2 linked regions of the Homo sapiens genome follow. The protein of the gene in region 2 purifies or fractionates together with the protein of the main gene of each other region. This does not show direct contact. Each region holds a gene or a part of one and is shown on either strand. Other genes may lie near its edges.

Region 1 (3,810 bases), on a different chromosome or scaffold from region 2:
AGGAGAATCACTTGAACCCGGGAGGCGGAGGTTGCAGTGAGCCAAGATCATGCCTTTGCACTCCAGCCTGGGAGACAGAGTGAGACTCCGTCTCAAAAAAAAAAAAAAAAAAAAAAAAATTAGCCAGGCGTGGTGTATGCCTGTAGTCCCACCTACTTGAGAGGCTGAGGCAAGAGGATTGCTTGAGCCCAGAAAGTTGAGGCTGCAGTGAGCTGTGTTCACAAAGGCTTGGGCAACACAGTAAGACCCCGTTTCTAAAACAAACAAAAAAATTATGTTGTACAAGACAAATATGCACGATTTTATCTGTCAATATAAATAAATAAATTTGAAGAGAAAAAAGGGAAAGAAAATCTGCTGAAGAGAAGCCAGCCCAGCCCAGGGTGTCAGTCCACAGTGCTGCCTGGCTGTCGGCAGACCACATCTTTGGGTCATACCTGACCCAAGACAGATACAAGCCTTTCTCTAACAAATCTAGCCTCAATGACCTTCCAAGTGACTGCTAAACAGCACTGATCACACCACTCCCTCTCTTAAAATATAAATGGCTTCTTAAGCTTCCAAGTGAGCAAATGAAAATGGCAGACAGCCCTACATCATCTCCTATTTCTCCAGCGTCACCTTCTGGTCACACAGCTGCCTTCCACCCTAATATTCAATTGAGGGAAACTCCCCACCAGTTCCCCCAAGTGGACCATGCTATTAATATTTCCCATCTCTGCTGGGAACAGTGGCTCACGCCTGTAATCCCACTTGGCATTTTGGGAGGCCGAGGCAGGCGGATCACCTGAGGTCAGGAGTTCAAGATCAGCCTGGCCAACACGGTGAAACCCCATCGCTACTAAAAATACAAAAAAAAATTAGCCAGGCATGGTGGCAGGCACCTGTAGTCCTAGCTAGTTGGAAGGCTGAGGCAGGAGAATCGCTTGAACCCAGGAGGCAGAAGTTGCAGTGAGCCAAGATTGCGCCCCTGCACTCCAGCCTGCATGACAGAGCAAGACTCCATTTCAAAAAAAAAAAAAAAAATTCCCATCTCCATGCCTGTGCCCTGCTCCTCCCATCTGGGACTCCCTTTCTACATCCCTCCTCTCTCTCTGTCCGCCTGGGAAGGTCCTACTTACCTTGTAAGAGTCACCTTCACCAAAACCTCCAGTGTTTCCCTGACCCCTGACCAGGCAGAGGGAGGAGCTTTTCCCTACGTGTCCAGTCCTCCCTGTACATCCCTACCCAAAGCACTTCTCACACTCCAAGTATGCTATCTGCTCACGGACCTGTCACTCTGCCTTTTTTATTTCTGACCCAGCACTCAATATGGCATCTAACACGGGACACATATATGAGTTAGGGTTGTGGAAAATACACCATAGTCAACTAACCTGGGAAGGTAAGACCATCCTCAACTTGCCGCACAGAGCTATGGGTGGGCCTCACAGGGGCGAGGGCTGCCGGGCACTCCGTCATCTCATACTGCTCAGAACTCAGATCCTCCTTGGGGAAGAGCTCACTCTGACTCACCTCCTGTGGTATTTCAAGACAAACTCGGTGCCTCTTTGTCCCTATTCGGTGCTTGGCCAGGCTGCAAGGGAGAGGGCAAATCTTTTAAGAGCCCACATATACATCCACTTACTCAAACACATTCATACACATCCACACACAACCCAAAGTGAATGGCCAGAGCCTGTCAGGCCTGGCTCAAAACTCAGGGACACCTCTTATTTGTGACTTGAGACAAGGGACTTCACCTCTCTGACCTTGTTCAATCATCTGGAAAATACAGGTATTACCACCCACCTAACAGATTTGTTGTGAGGATTAAGAAAAGGTATGCAGAGTAGCTGGCAAAGTGCCTGGCATATAGCAGGTACCAAGGAACGGTTCCTCCTTTCTTTCCCATATGGCCCAGGATAAATTCTCCTCAGAGCACAGATCCCCTGGCTCAGCCACCAATAGCACTGCAGACTTAAATCACGACATTACCAATGCCCTTGAGTCTCATCCTCACTACACTTCTTTTTAAAAGACTCTCTGATATGATGAGAAAACATGACTTTTCTGGCTCAGAGGGAGCCCGACCTTCGCACATAAATGCCCCCGACCCTCATATAACTGACGCCTTGCTCCAGCAGACTACACGCCCACTACAGGTCTCTCATTCAGAAAGTGCCTGAATGCTCTGGCTCTCAGGTTTCTGGAGCCTTTACCAAGAACACTCCCTTAGCCAAGGCACAAACGGCATCTTAGAAACAGCCTCGGCCGGGCGCGGTGGCTCACACCTGTAATCCCAGCACTTTGGGAGGCCGAGGTGGGCGGATCACGAGGTCAGGAGATCGAGACCGTCCTGGCTAACACAGTGAAACCCTGTCTCTACTAAAAATACAAAAAATTAGCCAGGCGTGGCTGTAGGTGCCTGTAGTCCCAGCTACTCGGGAGGCTGAGGCAGAAGAATGGCCTGAACCCGGGAGGCGGGGCTTGCAGTGAGCCGAGATCGCACCACTGCACTCCAGCCTGGGCGACAGAGCGAGACTCCATCAAAAACAAAAACAAAAACAAAAACAAAACAAAACAAAAAAAACAAGAAACAGCCTCTCCACAGATTACAGGACCTACCCAGACATCCCTCCCTCACGCAGCCAGGACAAAAGGGCTGCTGGGTTACCTTGTCTTCAGGTCTCCTTCCTCTCCATCCTCCACCCCTTCCATGTCCTCCTCTGGGCACTCCTCCTCGTTGCCAGCTCTTGGAGGCAGTTCACTCTCCTTAAGAAACTCAGCTGCTTCTGGCGTGGGCAGAGTATGGTCAATAACTGTGTTGTCCTTCCCAGCTTTCCAAAGTTTGTACCTTTCTGGCTGGAACTTTCTCACAAACACATCCATGGAGATCTTCACCATGTCCTTTCTACAGGAGCACTGTCAGCAGGAACCAGAAGAGCACCAGGTGAGCATACCTTGCTGCTTCCAACTCACCCCCACGTCCTAGCTCCTCCCTCCACATGGAAACAAGTGCAAGATGGTTTATAACCAGATTGTTTTGGTTCACAGGCTGAGGGCATGTTATCCTTGCAGGACCTTCAAACATGAAGGGAAGCAGGGAAAAAAAGGCAGAGAGCACATGCTACTGGGGCAAATCTACCTGGGCACTAACTCGGGGTCACAGAGGGTGGTTAGGCTCTGCACTTAGGCCCCCAGGACGGTGAGCCACCTGCCCTTGTTCCCTGTCCAAGCCAGGAACACACAAGCAAGTCTACTACTATCAGTCAAAGGCCCGACCCTGCTGCTTCCCTAGAGTAAAGGAAACCCCTAAAAATTTCAACAGAGAAATCTCGGAATGGATAAACAAGAGTATTAACGTGTGTGGATGTGGTTTTAATGCCTAATGGACTTAAGAACCTCATTTTATACTTCCCAATTCTGAACACATTTTTAAAAATTCCTTATGAACACAAAATGTTAGTACTCTGACACATTGCTAGCTGCTTGTTTCTGAATTCCAGCAGCTCAAAGAAATACTCTAATCACCAGCCAACGTATCTAACCAGAATTTGCTCATTTTTGTCATGGTGTTATAGAAAGAAATCAAGCAGACTTACCAGCACAGCTTGCTTGCCGTACTCAATCCACCGACGGGTAGCAAAATTGGTAGACTCCGCACAGTTAAAACCATGGTTAAAGCCGGCATGGTAACCATAAGGGAAAGTGATCATAAACTCTCCAGCCTCTTGAGTCACCTGAACAAGAGCAGACTTGAAGCAGCTGCTTCAAATGGCAGAAGTCCACAGAACTGGAATTCTGAGCTCCACCACAACTTAGCTGAGT
Region 2 (3,810 bases):
GATGGCGGTTTTGTCGAATAGAAAAGGGGGAAATGTGGGGAAAAGAGAGATCAGATTGTTACTGTGTCTGTGTAGAAAGAAGTAGACGTGGGAGACTTCATTTTGTTCTGTACTAAGAAAAATTCTTCTGCCTTGGGATGCTGTTAATCTATAACCTTACCCCCCCCCCCAAAAAAAAATTAGCTGCAAGTGATGATGCACATCTGTAGTCCCAGCTACTCAGAAGGCCAAGGCAGGAGGATCAACTAAGCCCAGGAGGTCCAGGCTGCAGTGAGCCAAGATCACACCACTGGACTCCAGCCTGGGAGACAGAACAAGACCCTGTCTCAAAAATCAAAACAAAACAAAACAAAAAAAAACCACCACCACCAAAACAAAAAGAAACAATCTTCCTTATCATTATTGTCTGGTATTTCAGTTTCAATATGTTGTTAAACCCTTAAAAATTTATACATATATATAAAGGAAGGATAAACAGTCCGCAGGCTGAAGAAATCTTAGGACTCCGGTCATGCCCAGGGATACGGAGCACTCTCTAGCGACCAAAGGGTGAGCACAAGCAGCGAGGCGAGCGGGTGGTGCACGCACTGAGAACTCGCATACCACAATGCCTGCCTGGCAGGAAGGACCACCAAGATGCTTTGTGCTGGCATTTTTATCTATTTGAACAGCCTAAAAGGCACATTTAGGGGTGGGAGTTAACGGTAGTTGAGGATGTAGTAGGAGCTCCTCACGGTGGGAGGGAGTAAGCTATTTCCCTCAATCTGATGCACTCAGTTCCCTGGTTCCACCAGTGCTTTCAACTTCTTTCGTGAACAGCTTGAGGGGGCTTCAGTGTTCAGGCTTTTTATAATCACAGCTGCTCTTCCTGCATGAAAAGACAGCTATTCATCCCAGCAGGCAGCAGTACTGGTTTCAGGCAGGCATTAGTCATCGGAAATTTTTCAAATCAACACTCCTGCCAGGGGTAGGTCTCTAAAACACAGACTCAATTATGTTACCCTCCCGCTTCTAGAACTGCTGGGGGCTCCTTTACAAAGCCCAACCCCTGGGGGGGCCTCGGCTCTGGCTCCAGCTTATGGCTGCAGCCTTACTCCCCACTGCAGTGACTACTGACGTTCCCAAAACACATCCTGCACTTTTATCCTCAGTAAATGTTTGGGAGGGCGAAGGAGGAAGGTTTTGACTGAGTCTCGTAATGCCCCACCTCCATCGCACCGAAACTACAGCTCTGCAACTGCTTCCAGGGCTTCACCAGGTATTCCGCGAGGTCCTGGCAAGAGCGCTGCTGGCAGGTGAGAAGGCAAACGTTCCCTGGACCCCAAATTCTCTCCTCTATACCCCCTACGGGAACCTGGCATAGGTGTGATGACCAGGGAGGGTCTGTCTGGGCTATAGGAATATTTCACCCTCCTGGCTCTGTCTGGGGAGGGCAGGGCTACAGCCCATTCTGGACAGATGTCCAGTCCAAAAGATTCAGGCCCATGAAGTGGGGCCCTGGATTATTATAAAGCAGATTTTAACCCATGGGTTTAAAATCCTCTGGGTTATGGGAGGCAGAGGTTGCCATGAGCCAAGATCGCACCACTGCACTCCAGCCTGGGTGACAGAGCAAGATTCCGTCTTATAAAAACAAACAAAAAAAGCTTCTGGGTTAGGGGGTGTTCGTTTAGGTGTGTGTTTAGGTCATTTTTATAGAGAGAAAACAGCTTAATTCTAACTATGACTGAGGGTCAACTCTGAATTAGGTGTTTAAGAGACACAAAGAAAAACAAGACACTAAAATACTATCCCCTGCTGGGCGAGGTGGCTCACGCCTGTAATCCCAAGCACTTTGGGAGGCTGAGATGGGCGGATCACTTGAGGTCAGGAGTTTGAGACCAGCCTGGCCAACATGGTGAAACCCTGTCTCTACTAAAAATACAAAAAATTAGCCGGGCGTAGTGGCCCATGCCTGTAGTCCCAGCTACTCAGGAGGCTGAGGCAGGAGAATCGTTTGAATCCAGGAGGTGGAGGTTTCGGTGAGCTGAGATCGCGCCATTGCACTCCAGCCTGGGCAGCAAGAGCAAAACTCTGTCTCAAAAATAAATAAATAAAATAAAATACTATCCCCTTACCCAAGAGTCTTGTGCAGATGTTTCATTTTAAAACATAATTCGTTCCCTAGAGTTATGTAATAACTCATTTCCTCCCTTTTGTGTTTAGGTCTTTATTTCCTTTATCTTATTTCAACAAGGAAACAAGCAGTCAGTACCAGGACCAGAGTCCTGGGCTGAACTGCAAAGTTTACAATCCACCCTGTCCCCCAACAACCTCCCACTTCCAGCTCCAAGGACTCCCCAGATGAGGCGTCTGGCCCAGAGAGCTGCTCAACTCCAGCCTCCAGCACATTCAAGGCTGCCACACTGAACTGCTTGGAGGCAGCTGACAGAAAGCTATCCGCTGAGGGTTAAACTCATCGAACTAACAAAAGCGGACATGTCAACTGACTTAACTGGGGATGCCCTCATATCTAAAGGAAGAAACTGCTGGGCACAGTGGCTCACACCTGTAACCCCAGCACTTTGTGAGGCAGAGGCAGGAGGACTGCTTGAGTCCAGGAGTTCGAAACCAGCCTGGGCAACATGGCGAGACCTTGTCTCTACAGAAAATACAAAAATAATTAGCCAGGCATGATGGCATATGCCTGTGGTCCCAGCTACCTGGTAGGCTGAGGCAGGAAGACTGCTTAAGCCCAGGAGGCAGAGGTTGGAGTGAGCTGTGATCTTGCCACTGCACTCCAGCCTGGATGACAGAGCAAGATCCTGTCTCAAATAAATAAAGGAAAAAACCAACATGAGGGGCAGGCCAGCACTGCAACTGGTACCTAATGCTATCCTGAGGAGACTCTCTACGGATCTTTCACAACTAAAGTCACTGGAGATGTGCTGTGGTGAGGAAAGATAGCACCTCACCATGGAGGAAGGTATCACTCAAAACCACCCTCTTCTGGTTCAATCATTTCCCATTAGTCAAGGAATCTTTTAATAATTAATTGGAGGCCTAGGTAATAATAATGGTAATGACTTTTTTCTTTCTTTTTTAAAGAGATGAGGTCTTGCTCCGTCAACCAGACTGGGGTGCAGTGGTGCAAGCATGGCTCACTGCAGCCTTGAACTCAGGCAATCCTCCTGCCTTAGCCTCCCACACAGCTGCAGTTACAGGCATGAGCAACCACTGCATCCAGCTATGACCCTTTTCTTGACTCACAAGGTGTGAGGAACACAAAACAGAATGGCTGCTTTTGAGAACAAGCACATTCCACAAATGTGATCCTTGGGATCACAGGAAACAAAGTGAGCAGAGTGGTGGGGAAAGAGGTTATTTACACTTCCACAAGCTGGATCTTTGGCTATTTCTACTAAGAGGAAAAAAGCTTTCTTAAACAACAAAATTCTTCCTGGAATATCCATGCAACATTAAAACCAAAGTTCCAAGTACGCAGATTCTTCTAGGCAGTATGTAAAATAGCATGTATGGCCAGGCACGGTGGCACTTTGGGAGGCTGAGACGGGTGGATCGTTTGAGGTCAGGAATTCAAGACCAGCCTGACCAACATGGTGAAACCCCACCTCTACTAAAAATACAAAAAAATTAACCAGGCGTGGTGGCGCATGCCTATGGTCCCAGCTACTTGGGAGGCTGAGGCAGGAGAATCGCTTGAACCTGGAAGCCAGAGGTTGCACTGAGCTGAGATCATGCCATTGCACTCCAGCCTGGGCAACAGAGTGAGACTCCATCTCAAAAAAAATAAAGAAATAAAATAAAAAT

The links.
Region 1: the proteins of POLDIP3 (region 2) and KDM4A purify together in Homo sapiens (affinity purification with mass spectrometry; one large-scale study listed by BioGRID and IntAct). This does not show direct contact.

Annotation. Positions count from the first base shown.
Region 1 is NC_000001.11:43,666,866-43,670,675, reverse strand, and holds part of KDM4A (lysine-specific demethylase 4A), read right to left. Parts: exon of another isoform or gene 3,723-3,810; coding exon 3,585-3,722; exon of another isoform or gene 3,564-3,584; intron 2,933-3,563; exon of another isoform or gene 2,905-2,932; coding exon 2,657-2,904; intron 1,577-2,656; coding exon 1,377-1,576; intron 1-1,376. UniProt on the Homo sapiens protein: Histone demethylase that specifically demethylates 'Lys-9' and 'Lys-36' residues of histone H3, thereby playing a central role in histone code. Does not demethylate histone H3 'Lys-4', H3 'Lys-27' nor H4 'Lys-20'.
Region 2 is NC_000022.11:42,608,095-42,611,904, forward strand, and holds part of POLDIP3 (polymerase delta-interacting protein 3), read right to left. Parts: intron 869-3,810; exon of another isoform or gene 641-868; intron 1-640. UniProt on the Homo sapiens protein: Is involved in regulation of translation. Is preferentially associated with CBC-bound spliced mRNA-protein complexes during the pioneer round of mRNA translation. Contributes to enhanced translational efficiency of spliced over nonspliced mRNAs.